7 linked regions of the Homo sapiens genome follow. The protein of the gene in region 1 interacts with the protein of each later gene in a pairwise test. Each region holds a gene or a part of one and is shown in the gene's direction. Other genes may lie near its edges. The genes, in order: MVP, DLX2, TSPOAP1, ZBTB32, TENT5C, NNT and RAB3IP.

Region 1 (3,500 bases):
CCAGCCCTCTGGACTCTAGGAAGTCGTCTTTCCAGAACAGAGCCCCGTATTGTGGAGCAACTGGGGGGTGGAATCAAAGGTGAGCAGGACAGGGCTATAGGAAGAAAAGACAAGGTCCCCATAAGAGTGGCGAGAGGAACAGAGCCAGGACATCGGAAAGCAAGCCCCTGTGTTCCCAAACCGCAGAAGAGGGAGCTCTGATGTTAGACAAGCCACCCTCCTACAAGCGAAGGGAAAGTAACTTTGAGCAAAAATGAGCAACAGAAAATGAGATCAAGGTCAGATCTCATACAAAGTTGCAAGATGAAAGAATGAGCAGCAGAATAACCTCCCTGTGATGTGGAAAGTGTGCCAGGAAAACAGACCCAAACTGTAACCTCTTTCAGAATGAGGCAAGGCAGTGAGGAAACTATGTGAAAACACGAAAGCAGCCGATCAGAGTTGTAAGCCCGGGCAGTCTGGGTTGGAATGGGTGCCCCGAGCCACGGGACCATGATGCCTCTCTAGAAAGACAGGACCAGGCATTCCACCAGGGTTCTAGTCCCAACAGCACCACTAACTTGCTTGTGGCCCTAAAGGATTCATTGTCCCTCTCTGGGTCTCAACTATTTAGAGCTCTACTGTCCAGTATGGGATCAACCAGCCATATTTGGCAATTTAAATTAAAATTAGCTGGGTACGGTAGCGTACCCCTGTAATCTCAGCACTTTAGGAGGCTGAAGCGGGAGGATTGCTTGAGCCCAGGAGTTCGAGACCAGCCTAGGCAACATAGCAGGACCTTGTCTCTGCAAAAAAAATGAAAAAATTAGCTAGGCGTGGTGGCACATGCCTGTAATCCCAGCTACTCGGGAGGCTGAGGTGGGAGGATCACTTGAGCCTGGAGGTTGAGGCTGCAGTGAGTCATGATTGTGCCACTGCATTCCTGCCTGGGCAACAGAACAAGACCTTGTCTCAAAAAATAATTTAAAAATTTAGTTCCTCAGATGCATTAGCCACATTTTATTTTATTTTTTTCCAAGACAGAGTCTTGCTCTGTCGCCCAGGGCTGTAGTGCAATGGCGAGATCTTGGCTCACTGCAACCTCTGCCTCCCAGGTTCAGGCAATTCTCCTGCCTCAGCCTCCCAAATAGCTGGGATTACAGGCACGTGCCACCATGCCCAGCTAATTTTTGTATTTTTAGTAGAGACAGGGTTTCTGCATGTTGGCCAGGCTGGTCTCAAACTCCTGACCTTGTGATCTGCCGACCTCAGCCTCCCAAAGTGCTGAGATTACAGGTGTGAGCCAGCATGACCGGCCATTAGCCACATTTTAAGTGTTCAGGAGCCACATGTGGATGTGGCTAGTCCAAAGACAGCACAGATTTAGAATATTCTCATCATTGTAGAAAGCTCTATTGGACGCTGCTGAGTAAAAGGGTTTTTTTGGTTTGGTTTTGAGATTGGAGTCTCGCTCTGTTGCCCAGGCTGGAGTGCAATGGCACGATCTCTGCTCACTGCAACCTCTGCCTCCCAGGTTCGAGCAATCCTCCTGTCTCAGCCCCCCTAGTAGCTGGGATTATAGGTACCCGCCACCACAACTGGCTAATTTTTGTATTTTTAGTAGAGACGGGGTTTCGCCATGTTGGCCAGGCTGGTCTCGAACTCCTGACCTCAGGTGATCCACCTGCCTTGGCCTCCCAAAGTGCTGGGATTACAGGCTTGAGCCACCACGCCCGGCCAAGTTAAAGGGTTTTTAAACAAGAGCTGGGCAGTGCAATGGCATAGCTGTAAGGCAGCAGGGGGTGGTGGGGACTGTGGTAGGTGGGAAAGCTTGTGTTCCATCTAAATGGGGCAGCTGCTGCTTGACTGTAGGCTGTATTGCTGGTCTTCTAATTCTTCAAGTGAATCAGGAATTGGGATTTTGTGAAGACTCACAATTTCTAAACAAAAAGTTGAAGTTTTACAGATCGTGGGGCTCAAGTATAACTCCTCTTGGGCTGTATCCAGCCTTGATTCTGTAATCTGTGGCTCCTGCCTGTTTTTCCTCGGCCAGGCCACTCCCTTCTTCCCCTCACTTATATTTTTCACCTGGGGTTGGAGGCTGGGTAGATGGTGGAATTGATGAGGAACCACTTTTTTTTTTTTTTTTTTGAGATGGAGTCTCACTCTGCCTCTCATAATGCTGGGATTACAGGCATGAGCCACTGCACCTGTCCTGGCCAGACATTTTTGAGGCCACCACCAGACAAAAGAGGCTCCTCATCGGCCAGGTGTGATGGCTCGCCTATAATCCCAGCACTTTGGGAGGCAGAGGCAAGAGGATTGCTTGAGGCCAGGAATTCGAGACCAGCCTAGGCAACATAATGAGACCTCATCTCTCCAAAAAAAAAAATTAGCTAGACATGGTGGCATGTACCTGTAGTCTCAGCTACCCAGGAGGCTGAGGCATGGCTTTTGTGAGCTATGATTGCACCACTGCACTCCAGCCTGGGTGACAGAGTAAGACTCCGTCTCAAAAAAAAAAAAAAAAAAAAAAAAGTCTGACCTGAGTCTCTTAAGGATGAGGCTCTGGAGCACCTAGTAAACTTGGTCCCATTTGTGTGACTCAAAGGGACATGTCCAAAGTCCAAAGTGCTGGGGGCAGGGGTGGGGCTTAGGTAGGGCATGTGACATTCCTGAACAGGCCAAGCACTGGGTGAAACTACTCAGGATTCAGAAGCAGGTGGGATGGGTGGGTGGAACATGATAATCATCCCCCTTCTCCTTCCTTTCCACCCTACCCTTGCTCACAACTGCAGGAGCTGAGGATGGGAGAGAACTGGGGACGAGGGGGCCAGAGTGATTTGCAGTGTTAGTAATGCAGCTGGTTCTATGGAAGGCTCAGTTCCATCTGGGATCCCTTTATGAGCAGTGGACTAGGTCTTCACATTCAGCCCAGGATTACTAAAGCATAGGAAAGAGGCAGGGAACATAGACACAGCTCATGTAAACATTCCTTTTGTTTATGGCCGAATCCTAGCCACTGGACTACCTGAGGCATACAGATATTCTTTGGCTATGGGCTGACATTTGAATACAGCTGGGGCCTCAGGATTCTCTGAAATAAAGGGCTGCCTCCCTCTGGAGGAGCCAGGCAGCTCCTCAGAGCAGCTGCCCATTGCGTGCTGGACAAGGCCATGTCACCACCTCCATGGCTCCCCAGTTTCCCAGCTTGCTGTATCTCTCCACCGTAAGAGACTGGGAGCACCTTGATCTGAAGCTCTTTGCAGTGCCGGTGGCAGTGTAGGGGGAAGTAGTTGATGGGAGTGAGGGAAAGGAATTGGCAAGGAACCCTGGGCCTCTGTGGCTCACTGCATCAAGCAGTTCTTGGCAAAGGTAAGGTCAGGATGGGCTGTGTCGTCTTGGGTGGGGTGAAGACAGGGAGCAGTGGGCATGCAGATGCGGACAGGGAAGGGTGCAGTGGCCTGGCTGGAGGAGGTAGGGCCGTATCCCACCCAGAGTCTGTCACCAGATTCATGCCT
Region 2 (4,008 bases), on another chromosome or scaffold:
GGGGGGTTTCAGAGGCTGGCGCCTGGGCGTGATTAGACCGTCTACCCCGCCCCCCGCAACCTCGCACACTGCCCACCAGGTGGCGCCACAAAGCAAGCGCTGCCGCAGGAACTTCGGACTTGGGAGTCCAGCAAGTCGTGCAGTCCATCACCGTCGGGCCAAGGTTTCCAACTACAAGGTTATAGAGACAGAGGAAGTCACCATTTCCGATTTTTTAAAAAACAGAGGGAAAAGAAAAAAATTGCAATGATAGGGTAGAACAGGGTCCTAAAATGCAAAACTGTAAAACAGGATTAAATTCAACAAACCAGATAAAACTTTTTATATTTGTTGTAAATTTACAGAGAAGTGATAAATCTAGTATCTACTTGATAAATCTATAATCTCACCTATTATCCTATTTCCTTTTTCGCAAGAGCATCGAATTTTCAAGGACAACTGGTGAACCTTTCCACCCGAAGGAGGAAGTCCTCGGGATGGCTTTCAGGGTGTCATTTACTTATCAAACGTATATAATTACTCAGAGTCTCGCGTGTCGGGAAAGTACCAGGGAAAGTGGTTTCAAATATACTATTAGCAATAATACCTTTAAGTTTATGTAGCTTCTCTTTGAAGCAACAAGGAAAACCCGTTTCAATATTATATGATTAATTGTCCTAATATCCCTGCGGATTGGTTAAGAAGCGAGCATTACACGTGGTTTGTGGATAATTAAATCAATTGATTATGTCAAGTGCCGAGTGGCTAACAAGAATAAATGCCAGACACTTCGAGGAAAAGTGAAGATAGAGCTGGCTGGACTCTGGGCACCGATGTACTTTAATGTGTTTGAAAACTGACCTCGGACATGAAAGTACGAATCACTGGAACTGGCACTTGCTCACAGAATGGGAGAGGGGACCCCACTTCTTCCTCTGAGGCAAAACGCCAGTCTGTCTCCACGCCTTCTGTCTTCCTGCTGCGGGCCACCCTGACTCCTCGCTACCTCGACCCCTCGCCTCGCTGCTCACATTCGGCGGCAGTCTGTTTGCACCTGGGGCCGCTGCAGCCGCAGCCGCAGCCACAGCGCCCACCATGTGACGCCCGCCCCTTGGCCGGGCGTTCCCGGAGCTCCGCGGCCGTTTGCTTCTGATTGGCTGTTGCTAGGTGACGTCGCCAGCGCTCACGTGACGAGTGTTAAATGCCCACACTTCAGGAGCCCGCCTGGCAGACAATCGTAAAGCCGCTCGGGGCCGCTCACCTGCTCCCGCCTCCCAGAGCCCCGACCCGGCCCAGCCACCCCTGCCCCCTCCACTGCCCGCCCCCCGCCAGAGCCCGCGCTCGCGCTGGGCAAGGAGCCGAGCGGGCCCAGAGGCCGAAAGAGGATGCGACCAGAGGCAGCTGTCCCGAGCAGCGCACGGTGATCGCCTCCCCCGGAGGAGGAGGCGCCTAGACGGTTGCCTCCTTTCTTGTTTCCCCACCACCACCCCCGTAATTACATTGGCTGCTGGAGGGGACCGGGAGAGACAGAGGAGGCGCCTGGCTTCCCCCGCACGCCCGCCACCTCTGCTCTTTCCCGTCTCGGGCCAGGATGACTGGAGTCTTTGACAGTCTAGTGGCTGATATGCACTCGACCCAGATCGCCGCCTCCAGCACGTACCACCAGCACCAGCAGCCCCCGAGCGGCGGCGGCGCCGGCCCGGGTGGCAACAGCAGCAGCAGCAGCAGCCTCCACAAGCCCCAGGAGTCGCCCACCCTTCCGGTGTCCACCGCCACCGACAGCAGCTACTACACCAACCAGCAGCACCCGGCGGGCGGCGGCGGCGGCGGGGGCTCGCCCTACGCGCACATGGGTTCCTACCAGTACCAAGCCAGCGGCCTCAACAACGTCCCTTACTCCGCCAAGAGCAGCTATGACCTGGGCTACACCGCCGCCTACACCTCCTACGCTCCCTATGGAACCAGTTCGTCCCCAGCCAACAACGAGCCTGGTATGCATAACGCTGAAGTCAAGAGTGCCGAGTCGGTCTAGTTAATGGGATGGATGGGTAAACGTGTTTGGGGCGGGGGGCCTTCGAAAGCTCTGGATTTTCACGCTGCCTGCTCACCGCCCGCTTGTGCCCTTTACCCTCCCCAGCCTCCAATCTGCCGCAGGTCGCCGGTTACGTCCCTCTCTCCTTTGGTAGGACCTGGTGGCCTCAAGAGCCAAGTGGGCGTGCTCTGCCTGCCTCATAAGGGCATCTCCTTGCCACCAGCTTCTTTCTCTTGGGTGTGCACTTGTCTCCCCCTTCCCTGGAGGGTACAGCTCCCGGGGTCGGTGGCGGCTCCGATCGCACGCTGCGAAGTTGCGCCTGCCCGTGGCGCCACAGTTCAGTGCACCCACCTCTTTGCTCAAGCCAAGTCCCCCCCGCCGGGCCCTCTAGGAGGGCGGGAACTCCAGGACCCCTGGGTTGCGCTGTTCTTACGATTCTTTATCGTTGCAGAGAAGGAGGACCTTGAGCCTGAAATTCGGATAGTGAACGGGAAGCCAAAGAAAGTCCGGAAACCCCGCACCATCTACTCCAGTTTCCAGCTGGCGGCTCTTCAGCGGCGTTTCCAAAAGACTCAATACTTGGCCTTGCCGGAGCGAGCCGAGCTGGCGGCCTCTCTGGGCCTCACCCAGACTCAGGTGGGGCTCGCGCCCTGCAGGGGCGAGGAGAGCGCGGGCCTGAGATGGCTGGGAAGCAGGCGGGTTTAGGACAATGCTTTTTAAAGTTCATTTTAAGTACTTTTAAGGATTTCCAGGCCTGCGCCTCGAGCGGCCCTAAGTAAGCTTCTAGGCCCAAAGCTGGAAACCCCCAAGGGGCCGCCGTGGGAGGGAAGGAAAGGGACCGGGTGGACAGAAATCCCGTACCTCTCGCTACTGATTAAGCGGGTGAAATAACTGGCCCTCCTCACCCTCCCGCTGTCACCATCATCACAGTGCACGTACACCAGCAGTCCTGGCCTTTTGGCAATTACCTCCCCAGGGAGCAGGAACCGGCAGAGCCTCGAAGGCCGCCGCCCGTGATCCTCTTATCTCCCCAGGGCGCTCGCTGCCCACCGCTAGCCAGCGGTTTTTCTCTGCCTTCTTTTTTCTCCTCTTCGAACCCCTACTGCCCCAAGACTAGGTTCCTCCACTAATGCTCAGGTCTTTTTCCTCAAAGGTCAAAATCTGGTTCCAGAACCGCCGGTCCAAGTTCAAGAAGATGTGGAAAAGTGGTGAGATCCCCTCGGAGCAGCACCCTGGGGCCAGCGCTTCTCCACCTTGTGCTTCGCCGCCAGTCTCAGCGCCGGCCTCCTGGGACTTTGGTGTGCCGCAGCGGATGGCGGGCGGCGGTGGTCCGGGCAGTGGCGGCAGCGGCGCCGGCAGCTCGGGCTCCAGCCCGAGCAGCGCGGCCTCGGCTTTTCTGGGCAACTACCCCTGGTACCACCAGACCTCGGGATCCGCCTCACACCTGCAGGCCACGGCGCCGCTGCTGCACCCCACTCAGACCCCGCAGCCGCATCACCACCACCACCATCACGGCGGCGGGGGCGCCCCGGTGAGCGCGGGGACGATTTTCTAACCCCAGGGAGAACTCGCCAGAGACTGAGAGCAGAGACCACTTATCCTCATTGCTTACCCCGAGCCGGGGTTCCCTCCTCCCGGCCCGCTGCCGCCACCCACCTCTCCTGCAGGCTGCGACCTGCAGTGGCCCGTCTCAGGCCCTGCTCACTCCCGGGGCCACCAAACGGGCCCCTCTCTCGGGGGAACCGGACAGCAGCTTGGCAAAGGCCTCCCTAAAAGGCCGCATTTCTGACCTGAGCCCCGGGTCTCGGCTGTTTCGAGCCCCGCCTCGGACTTGCCTTCCCTCCCCTCCGGGTGAGCCTGTCTGGCGCCTTCCTCGCCCCGGGCTGAGAGCTGGGTCCCGGGAGATGGAAGCCTCCCAGGCGCGCGAGGCTTCCCGGGCGCTCTGAGGCTTCTTTCTCCTCGCCCGCTCCCCTGGGCTCAGCTCGGACGCTGCAGTT
Region 3 (3,500 bases), on another chromosome or scaffold:
GATTTAGGAACAGGCTTAGCTCTGAATCTGTAACCCTGGAAGCTTGGGAGCCTGCTCAGTTTCTTTTCCCTGGGTCCTCTGCCTGTTACTTGAGGAGCTGCTGAGACCCATGGTACCTGGCTTTGTGGCCTAAACAGTTAAACTCCCTACAGGGGTAGATTATGAAGATCAGAATTAAAAAGCTTTCAGGAAAATAATACTTTATAAATGAAGAAAAAAAAACCCCACCCAAATCAAAAACCAAAACCCAAACACTTTATTTTTGGAGGGGGCAGCAAAGGCATAAGTATTAACTAACCACAAATGACTAGAATTTGAACTCTGCGATCTGGGATAAATTGGGATAGATGTAAATGCCACCGGGGGCAAGATGCCGTATTCCCTGTCCAACCTTAGCTAAAGGACTGCTTCGTCTATGTCTGGGCCACCTAGGCTGTTCTCAGCTGCATGGGCTTCTGGAGCATGTGCCTGACTCCGGCCCAGGCTCCAGCTTCAGCCCTGCAGGCTGGAGATCCTCTTAGTGTGAAGACTCCTGCCTTTGTCTCCCACTCCACAGTGCTGGTGCTTATGATCGTTTCCTAGGGCTGCAGGAGCAATTACCATAGAGTGGCTTGAAACAATAGACATTTATTCTCTCACTGGCCTCTTCTGGAGGCCAGAAGTCTGAAATCAAAGTATTGGCAGAACTGCATCCCCTTGGGGGCTCTAGGGGAGGTTCCGTTCCTTGTCTCTTTTAGCTTACGGTGGCTCCAGTTGTTCCTTGGCTTATGGCCACCTCACTCCAGTCTCTATCTGTGGTCACCATTGCCTCCTCCTCTTAGTGTTTCTCCTCTGCATGTCTCTTATAAAAACACTTGTCATTAGATTTAGGACCCACCCGGATAATCTAGGATGATCTCATCTCAAGATCCTTAACTTAATTACATCTGCAAAGACGCTTTTTCCAAATAAGGTCATGTTCACAAGTTCTGGGGATTAGAACATGGACATGTTTTTGGGCGGCCACCATTCAACCCTCTACAGTGCTTATTATATCAGTGAATTTATTGACAGTCCCTCTTGTTTCTTCAAGTTCCTTACTTTTTTTTTGCCTAGCATAGGCAGAGAGAGAGAGGGTGGAGGTGAGGGGCACAGATGACTGTTGGGGGAAACTCCAGGCCCCCCTGCAGCTCAGACCTGCCTACACTCACCCCTCTCCCCTAAGCCCTGGCTCGTGCTCCCCCTTCCTCTCAATAAAGCACACCAGCTACCAGCTGTCTGTTTCCTGAGACCTTTTTTTCTTCTTTAAATTGACCGTGACATTACATGCTGGGTGCCCAGCTTCCTTGACATCCCTCAATCAAACAACAGCAAATGTTTTAAAATACTCTCTTGTCAAGTCTTCAGGAGAACTGATGCAGGTAACAAAACATAACCATTGGTGGTTGCCTGGATTGACTGCTGTCAATCATGCTGCTAGACACAGGCCTGCTGGGGCTCCTGATCCTTCTAGAACTTACAAGTGACTATTTCACTAGCACTTACTTCATTTGTCTCTAAAGATTCCTCCTTTACCCTGCTGAGTTGGTTGTCTCTCTCTCCCTCTGTGGATGTCTGCTGTTCACAAAGAGAAGTTGAGGGGCACCCTGGCCCCTATTCCTCAGGCCCAGGTAAAACCCAACCAGCAGAATTTTTTTTTTTTTTTTTTTGATACAGCATCTTGCTCTGTCGCCCAGGCTGGAGTGCAGTGGCGCGATTATGACTTCTAGCTTCTGCCTCCCGGGCTCAAGCAATCCTTCCACCTCAGGCTCCTGAGTAGCTGCAACTGCAGGCGTGCAACCACTCCCAGCTAATTTTTGCATTTTTTGTAGAGATTGGGTTTTGCCATGTTGCCCAGATTGGTCACAAACTCCTGGGCTCAAGCGATCTGCCTGCCTCATCCTCCTGAAGTGCTGGGATTACAGGCATAAGCCACCATGCCTGGCCAGTTTTCTTATCCTGACCTGCTTATTTTTTAAAACTTTAATATGAAATTATGAAATTATTATTGCAATTTTTAACACAAAAGTTTTCAAATGTACAGAATATATTTGAATATTTATATAGCCAGCACCTAGATTCAACAATTGTTAAAACTTTGGCATATTTGCTTTATATGTAGGTTAAACATGATTTTAAAAGCATTATGATATTTTACCTTGAAATACTCAACATGCTTACTTAGAACATGATATTCTCCTCCATCCTTGCAGCTTGAGTGTCACCTGGTGGCTTATTAGAATCACAGAATCTCAGCCCCATCCAGACCCAACCGAGTTAGAATCTGCATTTTAACAAATCTGTAGGTGATTCATATGCAAGTTAAAATTGAAGAAGCACTGTCCTATAGAACCAAAATACTATTATCAGACCTATCTCTAATCCAGATCTTTACTGCTCTTGTCTTTTAAAAGAATTGACAGTTAAATGTTGATTTGAATCAAATGCTGAAGATCACCCACTAGCAGTTGCTAAAATGCATTTATTATACCGTTTTTTCTTTATCTCCTCTCTGTCTTCCCCTGCCCTGCCCCTTCCTGTCCTCCTCCTGCCAGGAGAGCTCATGGATGGCCGAAGGGGCCTGGTCCCTTCCAATTTTGTAGAGCGTGTGTCGGATGATGACCTCCTGACCTCCCTCCCTCCAGAGCTGGCCGATTTGTCCCACAGCTCAGGCCCTGAACTCAGTTTCCTGAGTGTAGGTGGGGGTGGCAGCAGTAGCGGGGGCCAAAGCAGTGTGGGAAGGAGCCAGCCCAGACCTGAGGAGGAGGATGCAGGGGACGAGCTCAGTCTGAGCCCATCACCGGAGGGCCTGGGCGAGCCTCCTGCCGTGCCTTACCCCCGCCGTCTGGTGGTCCTCAAGCAGCTGGCCCACAGCGTGGTGCTGGCCTGGGAGCCGCCTCCTGAGCAAGTGGAGCTACACGGCTTCCATATCTGTGTGAATGGGGAGCTGCGACAGGCCCTGGGGCCTGGGGCGCCACCCAAGGCCGTGCTGGAGAACCTGGACCTGTGGGCCGGGCCCCTTCACATTTCTGTCCAGGCCCTGACTAGCCGGGGCAGCTCTGACCCACTGCGCTGTTGCTTGGCGGTGGGTGCCCGGGCCGGAGTGGTGCCCAGCCAGCTGCGGGTCCATCGGTTGACAGCCACATCTGCTGAGATCACCTGGGTGCCCGGCAATAGCAACTTGGCCCATGCCATCTACCTCAATGGGGAAGAGTGCCCACCTGCCAGCCCCAGTACCTACTGGGCCACCTTCTGCCACTTACGGCCTGGCACACCCTATCAGGCCCAAGTGGAGGCTCAGCTCCCACCCCAAGGGCCCTGGGAACCAGGCTGGGAGAGGCTGGAGCAGCGGGCTGCCACCCTGCAGTTCACCACACTCCCAGCAGGTATGTGGGCTTGGGCCCTGTTGTCCAGAACACCCAGGAGGCCAGGCCATGGGTGACGGAAGAAGGGGACCCTGATCTTATTTGCGTTATCAGGGA
Region 4 (3,500 bases), on another chromosome or scaffold:
CGGCATTTCACCATGTTGGCCAGGACGGTCTCTATCTCTTCACCTTGTGATCCGCCCACCTCGGCCTCCCAAAGTGCTGGGATTACAGGCGTGAGCCACCGCACCCGGCCTGTGTCTACCATTTTCTAATGTCAACAATTGGTCCCAGGCTGGGTGGCTCACACTTGTAATCCCTGCACTCTGGGAGGCTGAGGCGGGTGGATCACTTGAGGTCAGAAGTTTGAGACCAGCCTGGCCAACATGGTAAAACCTCATCTCTACTAAAAATACAAAAATTAGCCGGGTGTCGTGGTGCGTGCCTGTAGTCCCAGCTACTCAGGAGGCTGAGGCAGGAGAATCTCTTGAACCTGGGAGGCAGAGGTTGCACTGAGCCAAGATCGTGCCACTGCACTCCAGTCTGGGTGACAGAAGGAGACTCTGTCTCAATAAAAAGAAGAGTTAGTCCCATGGGTGACATTCTGAACCTGATGGTGACTCCCTAAGAGATTTAGAACCATTGGAATAAAGTAGGTTCCTATATTATTTATGGGGCCTGGGCAAGATGACAGAGACTCCCTCGTCTCTTCCCATGCCTGGTGTTGGCCCATACTTCAAGGTGTCTCACATTCTAGCCTGCACATCCAAGCTCAGTCTACAAATCCCTTACACAAAATCAGGGTCTAGCGTGTGTGTACATCAGTCAGAGTCCACTCTCATGAATACAGGCCTGGGGTTGAGTCCTGTGTAGGGGGCCTCAGAGTCATTTGGTCCAGGAAATCCAGGGTGCTGAGTTCTCAGAGCATGGTCCAGAAGTGAGGTGGGAGCTCACAGTTCCGGGTAGGCACTTTCTAGATGCCTTTTGACTCAGCCTATGCGAAGGGATACAGCCAGAGGAGGTCCAAATGGGACCCTTTGCCCAGGTTTAAGTCAACACTAGTATTCTGTACTGGTCTTGAAACAGCCCCTGTGAGGAAATTGAGGGTCTTGGAAGACTTAGCTCCATATGAGTGCTGAAGAGAAGGGCCATTCACTGTGAAGGGATGCAGTGAAACCTGTTTTCCAACTTCTAGTCTAGTTCTTTTTCCAGTTAATCCACAAAGTGTGTGCTATGAAGGGGCTAGATTCAGCTCACCTGGGTATGACTATAGCTGGTTCTTGGATCATATAGAGCACAAATTTAAGGGAAAAAGGGAACTAATTCACTCCTTGTGGTGACTCTTTTCTGGAAGTCTTGGATGTACTTAACCAGAAAGACGGAACATCTTTTTTTTCTTTTTTCTTTTTTCTTTTTTTTTTTTTGAGACAGAGTTTCGCTCTTGTTGCTCAGGCTAGAGTGCAATGGCGCGATCTCGGCTCACCGCAACCTCCACCTCCCGGGTTGAAGCGATTCTCCTGCCTCAGCCTCTCGAGTAGCTGGAATTACAGGCATGTGCCGCCACGCCCAGCTAATTTTTTTTATTTTTTGTAGAGACAGGGTTTCTCCATGTTGGTCAGGCTGGTCTTGAACTCCCGACCTCAGATGATCCGCTTGCCTCCACCTCCCAGAGTGCTGGGATTACAGGTGTGAGCCACTGCGCCTGGCGAAAGAGTAAACATACTTAAAGTTCATGTAAGATTTGGATAATCGCTCTTAATCTATATAAAATGCTGTGGGGAATTTAACCACCTTCATTTGTGGAAAGAGATGGGTTCACGGGAAGAGTGGCGAGTTCACAGAATTTTTCTAAATTGAATCTTGTTCAACTTGGCTTGGGAAGAGGGCTTGATATTTAAAATAAGTGAAATAGAGGGAGAACTTTTTCACAAAACAAATGATCATCCCTCCCATTGGTCTATTCTGATGGTTTGATTTTAATTATAATATTTAAGGAGAATTGGTATTTGTGTTGCTGTGTTGACATTGTTACATCAAGCTGGGTTGTGCCTCAAGAAGTTCATGATACAAGGATTTCTGGGAAGCTTTGACTTTGCAGCCAGGGTGTGCCCCGAGCCCCTTGCACATTTTTCCCTTAGTGTCCCATTGGTCAAGTCTACCAGTAAGAATAAGAACTATCAGATTTCAGGCCAGGCGTGGTGCCTCATGCCTGTATCACAGCATTTTGGGATGCCAAGGCGGGCAGATCATGAGGTCAGGAGTTCGAGACCAGCCTGGCCAACATGGTGAAACCCTGTCTCTACTAAAAATACAAAAAATTAGCCGGGTTTGGTGATGCACACCTGTGATCCCAGCTACTCGGGAGGCTGAGGCAGGAGAATCACTTGAACCCAGGAGGCGGAGGTTACAGTGAGCCGAGATTGCGCCACTGCACTCCAGCCTGGGCAATAGAGCAAGACTCTGTCTCAAAAAAAAAAAAATCAGATTTCAAATTTTATTCAGTAATACGAGTATTAGGCCGGGCATGTAGGCTCACGCCTGTAATCCCAGCACTTTGTGAAGCCGAGGTGGGTGGATCACCTGACATCAAGAATTTGAGACCAGCCTGGCCAACATGGTGAAACACCATCTCTAATAAAAATACAAAAAATTAGTCAGGCATGGTAGCAGTTGCCTGTAATCCCAGCTACTTGGGAGGCTGAGGCAGGAGAATTGCTTGAACCGGGAGGCGGAGGTTGCAGTGAGCCAAGATAGCGCCATTGTACTCCAGCCTGGGCAACAAGAGTGAAACTCTGTCTCAAAAAAAAAAAGAAAGTAATATAAGTATTAAAAAGGACTGAGAGGCTGATATCATATTGCCTTTTATCACATACTCCCCTTCCAATCATGCCCTACCTAATCTCTCTACCTGCTCTACCCTCTGGCAGGACACAGGCTTGTGTCTGCATAACCTGTTGTTTCTTTGCTCTTTCCAGAGAGACAACTGCAGATGATTCCTACCGAGTCAGCCCAGGAAGAGGAAGGGGGGGCAAGGTTTTTGAGTCTAGGGAGGGGGAGTACTTTTAAGAACAGCAACAGACCAGGCATGGTGGCTCACACCTGTAATCCCAGCAGTGGATCACCTGAGGTTAGGAGTTCGAGACCAGCCTGGCTAACATGGTGAAACCCCATCTCTACTAAAAATACAAAAAAATTAGCCGGGTGTGATGGTGCATGCCCGTAACCCCAGATACTTGGAAGGCTGAGGCACAAGAGTCGCTTGAACCCAGAGGCAGAGGTTGCAGTGAGCCGAGATGGCGCCACTGCACTCCAGCTTGGGTGACAGAACAAGACTCTGTCTCAAAATAAAAACAAAACAGCACCAGCAGTGTCCCTACTCTTCCAAGTCAAAGTGCTGTCTGCTTCTGCCATCTGTGCTCAGTGCAGGATGGCTTGGGTTGCACTGTCAAGAATGCAGGAAGAGGCTAGAGAAGTGCTCAGGGTGTCATCAGCATAAGGGTTGCAGTGCAAAGGGCCCTGGAGATAATTCTAGGAGGCGGTCTCTAAGGGGATATCCTTAGGTGGGGTTCCCCATTCTTGGGGGCTTTTGTTCACTGAAAGGGGAGTTCCCTTGCCCCTCCTCCCTTTTAGGTTCCCCGAAAGCCCA
Region 5 (3,500 bases), on another chromosome or scaffold:
GTCCACCTCCCATCCACCATGGCAGACCTTGAGCTTGGTGGAAGGGAGTCAGCAGTTCCCAGACACTAGTCTCGCAGTTGAGGACCTGGGGTCAATTCGCTTAATCTTTTCTGAACCTTATTACTTAATTTGTGAAAAAGGGATAGTTGTAGATTCCTTAGAGTTCCTATGAGGATTAGATGGGAATTGAAGTGAAGTGGCTCATACTAAGTACTATTTCATTTGCTTTGACACACACCTCTACACCCTTCATTTCACAAGCAAAGAAGAGATGGACTTGGAGTCGTGGTTGTCATTCACTCTTGTTAAGGGAAGAAGTGGGATAGGATAGTATGAAGTGTATTGCCACCACTTTTATTTCTGCTTATGTTCTCTAGGTTTTCATATGTAATGGAATGGTCTCTTTTTGTCTAAAGTGTCCTCTTGTACACGGGGGAGGAGTTTGTGTGGAAGATGTGTGGGAAGAGCCACAGGTGCACGGGTCCCCTGTTGGCCAGGAGCCAGGGCCCACAGGTGTCTTTGTTCCAGGTACACACTTCTCTTGGAGTCTGTCACCAGGCTTGGCGCATTGCCCAAGATTCCAGCTCTTACCTTGGGTTAGAAAGTTTTACTGGGAAGAACCACACATTTGAGGTAACATCCAGAAATAGTGAAAGAGAATTTGTCCCCAAAGGAAGGCTGAAATGTGTTTGATTTTCTTTTGTATTCATAAACCCTCAGGAGGGTCAGAAGAAGGTAACACTTAGTTGCCTCTGGACTGCTGAAAGCCCTCAATAGCTGAGAGCCTCAGTTCAAGCCTCAGCATTTTCCTGAAATTTTCTAGACAATCACTTCCATAGCTTTCATGTTAAAGGTCACAGACCTAGACTTAGATATATGCAGTCCTTAACTTGATAGATGTATGTCTCCACACATACTAAGAACCTTGTGGACGGTTTCTGTGTCTAATGCCAGGCACAAAATAAGAATTAATGTTGCTTTGACCGAATTGACTGTGTGCAAATGTTATAAATGCTCACAGTTACCTCCCCTCCAGCTCATGCACCTGCCTCTCCCGCTCGCCCACCTTGGGTTCCTCACACTTTCATCGTGTTTCTGGAGTTCACTGGCTAGTCCAGAGATCTAGATAAGCTATGAAGCAGGACTAGAAATAGCTTTTTTTTTTTTCTTTTCAGTGCTCAAACATAGGTTTTCAGACCAATCTGCGTTGAGCAGCTCTGTCCTGGGCAGTGGGAAATGATTAGATCAGACATCAAACTTTTTCTCAGGGACCTTGGTTTAACCTTCTGGCCTAGTTTGTTTTTTCCTTTCTTTTGCTGCTATCTCTGCAAACCTCTTTTTTTTTTTTTCCCTTCAGTGTGTGTATTCTACCTTTACTGCAGTCAGATAATAGAAGAAAAGGGAGTACGAAAGTACCTGAGATAGTTGGTCATCTTGAATTGTCAAAAACAAACCCTGAATTCTCAAATCTGCAGGAACAAATTATGGTTTCCACCTTTCCCCATTTCTACTGTATAAATATAATGAATCTGTTTCTCAAACAGTAAAAGGGAAATGAAACACTTTAATTTGAATTTACTAGGCTTCAAATTAATTTGTTCTCTATTTTGTTAATTCTGCTAACTAGAATTTGCCTTTAACCAGGGCCTTTCATGAATTGGGAATGTGTGTTCCACGTGATTCTTTTATATGGGGATTATATCAGTGTTGATTTAACGTGGTTAATTAAAACTAAAAACTGTTGGACTAAGCACTGATGTGTTACCTAAACACTGAGGGCCTATGACTTGGATGTATTCTAGTAATACCAATGTTTGTCTAAGTAACTTTAAAATGTACTTTTGGTATTTGAAATTGTTTGGACGAGTGAGGGACAATGAAGAATCCCTTTCTAATAGGCACAAGTGACTTATTTTATGCTCTTCCAATGAGCTAAGCACTTAGTATGAACTCAGCTTAAATTTGTGTCTTCAGTGGCTTAAACTCCTCTCTATGTAAATCATGGTAAATTGAGAAAGTGAAAAACTACGCCATGGACTTGGCATTTGTCATGTCCCACACTGTGCTTTTATACAGACTTTTTCCCCTAGAATTTAACTCCAATATTCATATATGTATGAGAAGAAGTTGTCATGGAAGATGCTAACCACAGGCATATTGTATTTCTGAAAAAAGTGTTTGTTAAAGTTTTTGCAGCTGTAGCCAGCAACCAACTTAACAGTATCACAAGGGTAGCTACATGTTTGAAATGAGAAATAGCAATTCTGTGAAACTGAAAAAAAAAATTTCTTTTGGTTAACATAGAATGAGATGAGAGGAGATGGATTTGCATGAATTAGAGAGTCTGAGGTTTTTTTTTAATGAGCATCTTTTTAAAAAGTATATGAGTAGAAACTTGATAGAAAGGCATTCTAAAGGAAAAGAGTCTCTCTTCCTCTGTTCATCCCCTTATCTGTAGAGATCAGCATTTACATCTTGGAGGTGAAGCTTCCAAGTGTACTTAATTTTGTCACATGGATGTGGGAATGCAGAATGTGGAATGTAGAGAGGAGGGGTGGGAAGGAAAAAGGGGATTGAAGAAGTTAAATAAGGCAGCAGGTGAATAGAAGGCTCCTAAGGGAGAAGCTTTAGGATCATAAGGTTTTAATTTTTCTTCAACTAATACATATATAGATTCCAAATTCAAAGGGCACAAAATAAGTTTTCTTCTTCTAACTTTGAATCTACTTCCCCTAAACTAGAGGAAGTATTTGGTACAGACTAAAACTACTACCTGCATATGTTTCCAGAGACTTTATATGCTTGTGTAAGCACAGACTTTAACAGTTTTGCTGTTAGCAGTTTTGCTATTAACTTGTTTTTCTATTAATGAGTCTTGATAAGCATTTCACAGTCATACAGAAAGAACAGCTGTCTTGAATTGTCATCTCGAATTGTTGAAAACAAACCCTGAATGCTCAAATCTGTAGGAACAACTGCATGCGTTTCTGTATTGTTTTATACACACATCAGATCATTTAACCATCTTCTATTGGTGAATACTTATAGCTTTATAAATAATTCTCCAATGAATATTTTGTGTATACTTGCAAATATACTAAGGATATAATTCAAAGTAGACTTACCAGAAGTAGAATCCCTATGTCAAAGAGTATATCTCCTTAAAATTAAGTGTCTTGTGTCCGGAGAGAGCCCACAAGCAGTATACTAGAGGGTGTCTGATTCCCACATATCAGACTTAGTGATCTTTGCCCATTTGATGGATAAAAATGATACGTTGAGGTTTTAATCTGCCCCTCTCTTAAGTAAGGTTGTGACTGTAATAGGTGTTTGAGATGTAGTTTGTGTCCTTTGTGTCTTCTCTGTTGGGGTTCTTCTGGTATTTCTGATTTGTTGAAGCTCCTTATTCATTATGGAAATGAGTACTTTGCCTAATGTTACAAATATTTTTCCTACTTTTGCCTTCTGACTTTATGGTGTTTTTGAATTATATAGTCAAA
Region 6 (3,500 bases), on another chromosome or scaffold:
AATATAAGGGAATTTGATTAGAGATTTAGGTAGTCTGAAGAAGTGTTGGCTAGGGGAAGGTTGGGAGTTTGTGACGGGAAGAGGCACGCATTGATGCTGGGTGTTCATTGGAGTTGGGTCGTGCTTAGGTGTGTGGAGAAAAACTGCTGTTTTGAAAGGGTATACAAGTTGAGCATCTTTAATCCGAAAATCCAAAATGCTCCAAAATCCAAAACTTTTTGAGTGCTGACATGACATCACAAGTGGTGAATTCCACACATAAATACTTAACACAAACTTTGTTTCAAGCACAAAATAATTTAAAATGTTGTTTAAAATTACTTTCAGGCTATATATATATGAAACATAAATGAATTTTGTGTTTAGACCTGGGTCCCATTCCCAAGATATCTTATTATGTATATGAAAATATTCCAAAATTAAAAAAAATTAAAATCTGAAACACTTCTGGTCCCAAGCATATCAGATAAGGGATACTCAACCTGTATACAACTAGTGCCCTTACCTTCTGTACAGCCCCTGTAGAGAATATTTAGCCCGTACTAGGAACTAGATAATATTTATTTGTGACAATGGTGGAAATCCTTAAGGGTGATCTTTGTTGTGGTTACTTCTCAAAAGTTTGTCAAGTTTTAATTTATTTTTGACCTTTCATAACAGGATTGACAATTGCCAAACGCATCCAGATTTCTGATTTACCTCAATTAGTTGCTGCTTTTCACAGTTTAGTGGGTTTGGCAGCTGTACTTACTTGCATAGCTGAGTACATTATAGAATATCCACATTTTGCTACGGATGCAGCAGCAAATCTCACCAAGATTGTGGCCTACCTCGGCACTTACATTGGTGGCGTCACCTTTAGTGGGTCTCTCATTGCCTATGGAAAATTGCAGGGTAAGTGATTCAGCATAACATAGAGGTAAATATCTACTGTTTAGGGCATTTAGGGATCCATTTTAATTTCAGAAAATACATTAACAGGGCTGGGCGCAATGGCTCATGCCTGCAATCCAGCACTTTGGGAGGCTGAGGTGGGAGGCTCTCAAGCCCAGGAGTTCAAGACCAGCCTGGGCAACATAGCGAGACCCTATCTCTACTTTTTATAAAAAATAAAATATTACTACTAATAAAAAAGATTAAAAAAAATGCCTTAACAGTAAAACTGTTAGGTGAAGAGTATTCGTATAGCACTCAGAAATTGTAAGAGTTTTTTTCCCCTCATCCTTCCCCTTTATTGATACTTAGTAAGTCTCATAAAGCTTTGAAGCTGTTTCATTTGCAGACAGCTAATGGAGGAAATTAGTGAACAGAAATTTGCATGGAGGGACTAGTTGACTTTTGATAATATATGTGAACTAAACAGCATCCTCATAATCCTTGGTTAGAGATGACTGTGTAGAATTCACAGAAATGAACTTTATGTATTTTCTTACAACACATTCTGAATTGTAACTACTATGTGCTTGGCTCTAGGTCTCCTGAAATCTGCCCCTCTCCTACTGCCTGGAAGGCACTTACTCAATGCAGGCTTACTGGCTGCTAGTGTGGGCGGGATAATCCCATTCATGGTGGACCCAAGCTTTACTACTGGCATCACCTGTCTGGGTTCAGTGTCTGCTCTCTCTGCTGTCATGGTAAGAAGTCAGAGATTGAAAAGTACATATTTGGTGAAGAACTGGGAATATTTTGTTAGATTAAAGTGTAATCATATTTTTATCTCTTCAAGAACCTTGATGGAATAAAAATGTTTTAAAATTACGTCACATGTGCATCTTTTTAGAATCTGGAAAACATAGAAGAGTGTAGGAAGAACATTATTCTTTCTTGCAACTTAATTGTTCATTTTAAAGTTGTCACATGAGACACCTTTATTGCTCTGGAGTCTTTTCACCGGATCAATGTGTTGGTGAACAGGAGCTTAAAAAGGCCAAGGGTTTCAATGTATTAGGTGCCTACTATATGACAAGCCCTACAAAATAGTGCTTCGGGGTTTATACAATACAAGTAAGATAGTCTCTGCCCACCAGTTGCTCTTACATCATTGGAAGATATGACACGAAATCAAATAAGTATAAAATGAAATGCAGTTAAAAAACCCTGTATGCTCAGTGAGAGTATTCAGTGAAGGCTTTTATGATAGGTTTGGCTTTCTTCTTTCTCTGCAATTTTTATATTTAGTGTATTGAAACACACAGTAGTTTTTAGTTGTCTATGTGACAGTCTGGCATCTTATATCAATGTATGATGCTGTTTTATGCAGCGCTATTTACTGTTATTCACTGTTACTCATGTTCTTTCAGTGTGTAATCCGTAGACAAGGTTTATATTTAAGTTAAAAAAATTATCTACAGTAACTAACACAAAGTTAGACACATAGCAATTGCTTATGAAATACTTACTGGCTCCTTGATTGAGAAACACCTAATTTATAGTGTAAAAATGATACTTATTTTTGTGTGATCATGGCAGTTAGGTCATGATTTTAACACAGAAATTTTAGAACACTGAAAAGTAAATTAAAATCTCATCTTTATATTCACACTCATGGTCTAATTTTATTCTGGCTTATTGCACTGGTTTTTGTTTTAAACAAAAGAAAAATAATTTTGATATTTTTAATCTAATAAAGCAGAATAGGTTGATGAAGTCTCAAAATAAAAGATATACAAATGTGATTGGGTGAGGTGGCTCATGACTGTAATCCCAGCACTTTGGGAGGCCGAGGTGGGTGGATCACCTGAGGTCAGGAGTTTGTGACTAGCCTGGCCAGCATGGTGAAACCCCGTCTCTACTAAAAATACAAAAATAAGCCGGGTGTGGTAGTCTGCGCCTGTATTCCCAGCTGCTCGGGAGACTGAGGCAGGAGAATCGCTTGAACCTGGGAGGCGGAGGTTGCAGTGAGCCGAGATCATGCTATTGCACTCCAGCCTGGGTGACAAAGCAAGACTCTGTCTCAAAAAAAAAGAAAGAAAAAAAGATATACAAATCTAAAACTTTAAGAATTGTTGTTTTTGGGAAGCAGTGACTATGATATTTAAAGGATTTATTGGTTCTATGAGAATGTCTGACTAAGACAAAGTATTTTTTGAATTTATTTTATTGCTTTTGGCTTAAATGAGTAATACATGAATATGCTCTCATTGTAACAAACAAAAAAAGGTAAAAACATGTGAAATAAAAAGCAAAAAGCTTTTTCCTTTCATGTGTTTAGTAATTTCGAGTTGTATCACGGACATTGTTAATGATACATTATAGACATTTTGGATGTTATGTTATATTCCTTCAAAGGGTATTGATTATTATTATTTATTTATGTGTTTTTGTAGCCAGCTAACTTGGCTAAACTCAAATTCCAAATTTTGACTCCCTTATGGTGGGTGGTGGGGGGCAGCTGAAATCTATTGTTATTTTATCCTTAACAGGATTGCTTGGAGTCTGTCTCACATATGTGTAGTTCAAGAGTCATCCAGAGATTTGAGTAGAATTTATAAACAGAAACT
Region 7 (2,420 bases), on another chromosome or scaffold:
ATGTTTTAGTCCCTGGGTTAGGTGGTGGGTTTTGGGGTGGTTCATTTGTCATTAAAAGTAAGTACATGAGCTGGGTGTAGTGGTGCGTGCTTATAGTCCCAGCTACTTGGGAGTCTGAGATAGGAAGATCCTTGAGGCCAGTTCAAGGCTATAGTGTGCTATGATTTCACCTGTGAATAGCTACTATATTCCAACCTGGGCAACGTAGACCTTGCCCCCCTTTAAAAAAATTCAAAAACAAAATAAATGCATGGACAAATGAATAAGAGAGTTATGCATGGAACATCGGTGGTGTATTATGAATCAAGCATTATTACTAGCTCAGTTATATGTGCCTTCATTCCAAAACAAAAAATAAAAGGTAAGAAAATTGTTGAATTGCATTTGAGAGAGAGGAAAGGAAAGAATTCAGGTCTGAATCTTAGGCTTTTGGCTTGAGCTATTGCAGTTTATTGAGATGGGGAAATACATGGTGGGGAAAGTTTGGGTATGTGCATAACAGAGACAGAAATTCAGTGTTTGACAGATCAAGTGTGAGGTGCCCACTGAGCATCAAAGTGGATATGTTAAGCAGGTATTGGATGTACAAATCTAAATTCAGTAAGGTCAGTCCAGGAGAAAATTTGGGGAGTAGTTAGCCATGGGATCAGATGGGCGCTTTAGGGACACTTTGGAGATGAAGTACAGCACTGAGCCCTGAGTTCCTGTGACAGAGAAGCAGCCTGCAAAGACGAAAGGAGGAGCTGTTAGGAAGAGCAAGGCAACAGAAAAGGAAGAACCAGCATGCTGATTATGTTCAGGAGAGTGTTTCTACGCTGAATTTAATTGCCAAGATTACCAATTCTAAAGAAGAGGAGGACTCTTGGACAAGTTTTTAGAAGTTGGTTTGGAGCTGGGGTGAGAGCCTGGCCTAATGGAGACAGCTCTGGATTGGGAGTCACTTAGACCTACATTCTGGTCTAGGTTTGGCTCCCAAAAACTGGGAAGGTTAGTTAGGTGGCCACTCCTCTCTCTTCATGGTCTCTCTCAGCTTGAAGACAATTTACAGTCTTTGACTAAGCATCCACACTGGAAGAACAAGATTTGGTTTCTGAACATTGGGTCTTAGTCCTTAAAATAACTTGCAACCTGTTACGTCTTCACTTACTCCCATCGCCACCACAAGAATCCTGTGTGTTTTTGTTTTGTGCATCCAGTCTAAAACGGGTCTGCTTTTATTCATAGGCTTTTGTTTTCAGTGGTTTTTGTTGTTGCATTTTTCCCTAGATAAAATGTTTTTTCTATAAGACACTGCTTAAAAGAGTCCAATGCAGTATGAATTTGTATTTGTGTTTAACTTTTGTGCTTAACAGATCTGCCATGGCTGAACTCTCAGTTGCTTAAGCAAAATTCTGGGGCTTATTCTAGGTTCCTTTATTTGTCATTGTCACTCCCATTCCAGTTATCAGCAAATTCCATCAGCTGTCTCCGAGACATCTTAAATCTGTCTACCTCCCTCCATGTCCACTGCTACCACTCTGCCCAAGCTATTATCATCTTTCACCTGAACTCCTGCACTAATGTCTGCTGTCCTTGCATCCACTCCTGCCCTCCTACAATCACTGACGGCAGCCGCAGGGATCTTTATAAAACGAAAATCAGATAATGTCACTTCCCTGCTTAAAGCCCTTTGAGTGGCTTCCCATTGCACTTAGAAAAAAAAAAAAAAAAAAAAACTGGCCAGGTGCGATGGCTCATGCCTGTAATCCCAGCACTTTGGGAGGCCGAGGCGGGCGGATCCCCTGAGGTTGGTAGTTCGAGACCTGCTTGGCCAACATGGAGAAACCCTGTCTCTACTAAAAACACAAAATTAGTCAGGTGTGATGGCGCATGCCTGTAATCCCAGCTACTTGGGAGGCTGAGTCAGGAGAAACGCTCGAACCCAGGAGGCAGAGGTTGTGGTGAGTTGACATCACGCCATTGCACTCCAGCCTGGGCAACAAGAGTGAAACTCCGTCTGAAAAAAAAAAAAAAAAACCCAAACTCAATAGAAAATCAAGTTTTCATAGTGGTAGTTGTTAACAGAGAAATAACAATGAAAGCTTTAAAAAACTCCATGAAAATTTGCAAAACTTAAAAAAAAAATGTAGAAGAGGACTAAACTTGATAAAATATTAAAAGAATTGAAACCCTTCCTAAAGGCAGCTTCTCAAGGGAGCACAAGTTCACACACAGTTTACTTTTGGAGGAACGTCTGAGGTCATGAGGACTAGATTCTAGAGCTACAGGTCTCAGGGACAGTCTCGAGGGATACAGGGCCCCCATCACCACATCCCCAGATTTAACCGCAGCAGCTCAGCTTTTATCTGTATCTGTTGGAGCTCTCTAGGAAATGTCAATACCAAAGCAAACCCAAATCACAACTAGATTAGATTACTATT

Evidence for each region.
Region 2: the proteins of MVP (region 1) and DLX2 interact in a two-hybrid assay, tested with the Homo sapiens proteins (one large-scale study listed by BioGRID).
Region 3: the proteins of MVP (region 1) and TSPOAP1 interact in a two-hybrid assay, tested with the Homo sapiens proteins (one large-scale study listed by BioGRID).
Region 4: the proteins of MVP (region 1) and ZBTB32 interact in a two-hybrid assay, tested with the Homo sapiens proteins (one large-scale study listed by BioGRID).
Region 5: the proteins of MVP (region 1) and TENT5C interact in a two-hybrid assay, tested with the Homo sapiens proteins (one large-scale study listed by BioGRID).
Region 6: the proteins of MVP (region 1) and NNT interact in a two-hybrid assay, tested with the Homo sapiens proteins (one large-scale study listed by BioGRID and IntAct).
Region 7: the proteins of MVP (region 1) and RAB3IP interact in a two-hybrid assay, tested with the Homo sapiens proteins (one large-scale study listed by BioGRID).

The regions. Positions count from the first base shown.
Region 1 is NC_000016.10:29,826,962-29,830,461, forward strand, and holds part of MVP (major vault protein), read left to right. Parts: intron 1-3,500. UniProt on the Homo sapiens protein: Required for normal vault structure. Vaults are multi-subunit structures that may act as scaffolds for proteins involved in signal transduction. Vaults may also play a role in nucleo-cytoplasmic transport.
Region 2 is NC_000002.12:172,100,101-172,104,108, reverse strand, and holds the start of DLX2 (homeobox protein DLX-2), read left to right. Parts: upstream 1-1,208; 5' UTR 1,209-1,570; coding exon 1,571-1,970; intron 1,971-2,462; coding exon 2,463-2,647; intron 2,648-3,164; coding exon 3,165-3,566; 3' UTR 3,567-4,008. UniProt on the Homo sapiens protein: Acts as a transcriptional activator. Activates transcription of CGA/alpha-GSU, via binding to the downstream activin regulatory element (DARE) in the gene promoter.
Region 3 is NC_000017.11:58,311,796-58,315,295, reverse strand, and holds part of TSPOAP1 (peripheral-type benzodiazepine receptor-associated protein 1), read left to right. Parts: intron 1-2,573; coding exon 2,574-3,404; intron 3,405-3,500. UniProt on the Homo sapiens protein: Required for synaptic transmission regulation. It probably controls the recruitement of voltage-gated calcium channels to the presynaptic membrane, and modulates neurotransmitter release.
Region 4 is NC_000019.10:35,707,558-35,711,057, forward strand, and holds part of ZBTB32 (zinc finger and BTB domain-containing protein 32), read left to right. Parts: intron 1-3,500. UniProt on the Homo sapiens protein: DNA-binding protein that binds to the to a 5'-TGTACAGTGT-3' core sequence. May function as a transcriptional transactivator and transcriptional repressor. Probably exerts its repressor effect by preventing GATA3 from binding to DNA.
Region 5 is NC_000001.11:117,616,048-117,619,547, forward strand, and holds part of TENT5C (terminal nucleotidyltransferase 5C), read left to right. Parts: intron 1-3,500. UniProt on the Homo sapiens protein: Catalyzes the transfer of one adenosine molecule from an ATP to an mRNA poly(A) tail bearing a 3'-OH terminal group and enhances mRNA stability and gene expression.
Region 6 is NC_000005.10:43,655,180-43,658,679, forward strand, and holds part of NNT (NAD(P) transhydrogenase, mitochondrial), read left to right. Parts: intron 1-660; coding exon 661-894; intron 895-1,473; coding exon 1,474-1,634; intron 1,635-3,500. UniProt on the Homo sapiens protein: The transhydrogenation between NADH and NADP is coupled to respiration and ATP hydrolysis and functions as a proton pump across the membrane. May play a role in reactive oxygen species (ROS) detoxification in the adrenal gland.
Region 7 is NC_000012.12:69,818,860-69,821,279, forward strand, and holds part of RAB3IP (rab-3A-interacting protein isoform alpha 1), read left to right. Parts: 3' UTR 1-2,420. UniProt on the Homo sapiens protein: Guanine nucleotide exchange factor (GEF) which may activate RAB8A and RAB8B. Promotes the exchange of GDP to GTP, converting inactive GDP-bound Rab proteins into their active GTP-bound form.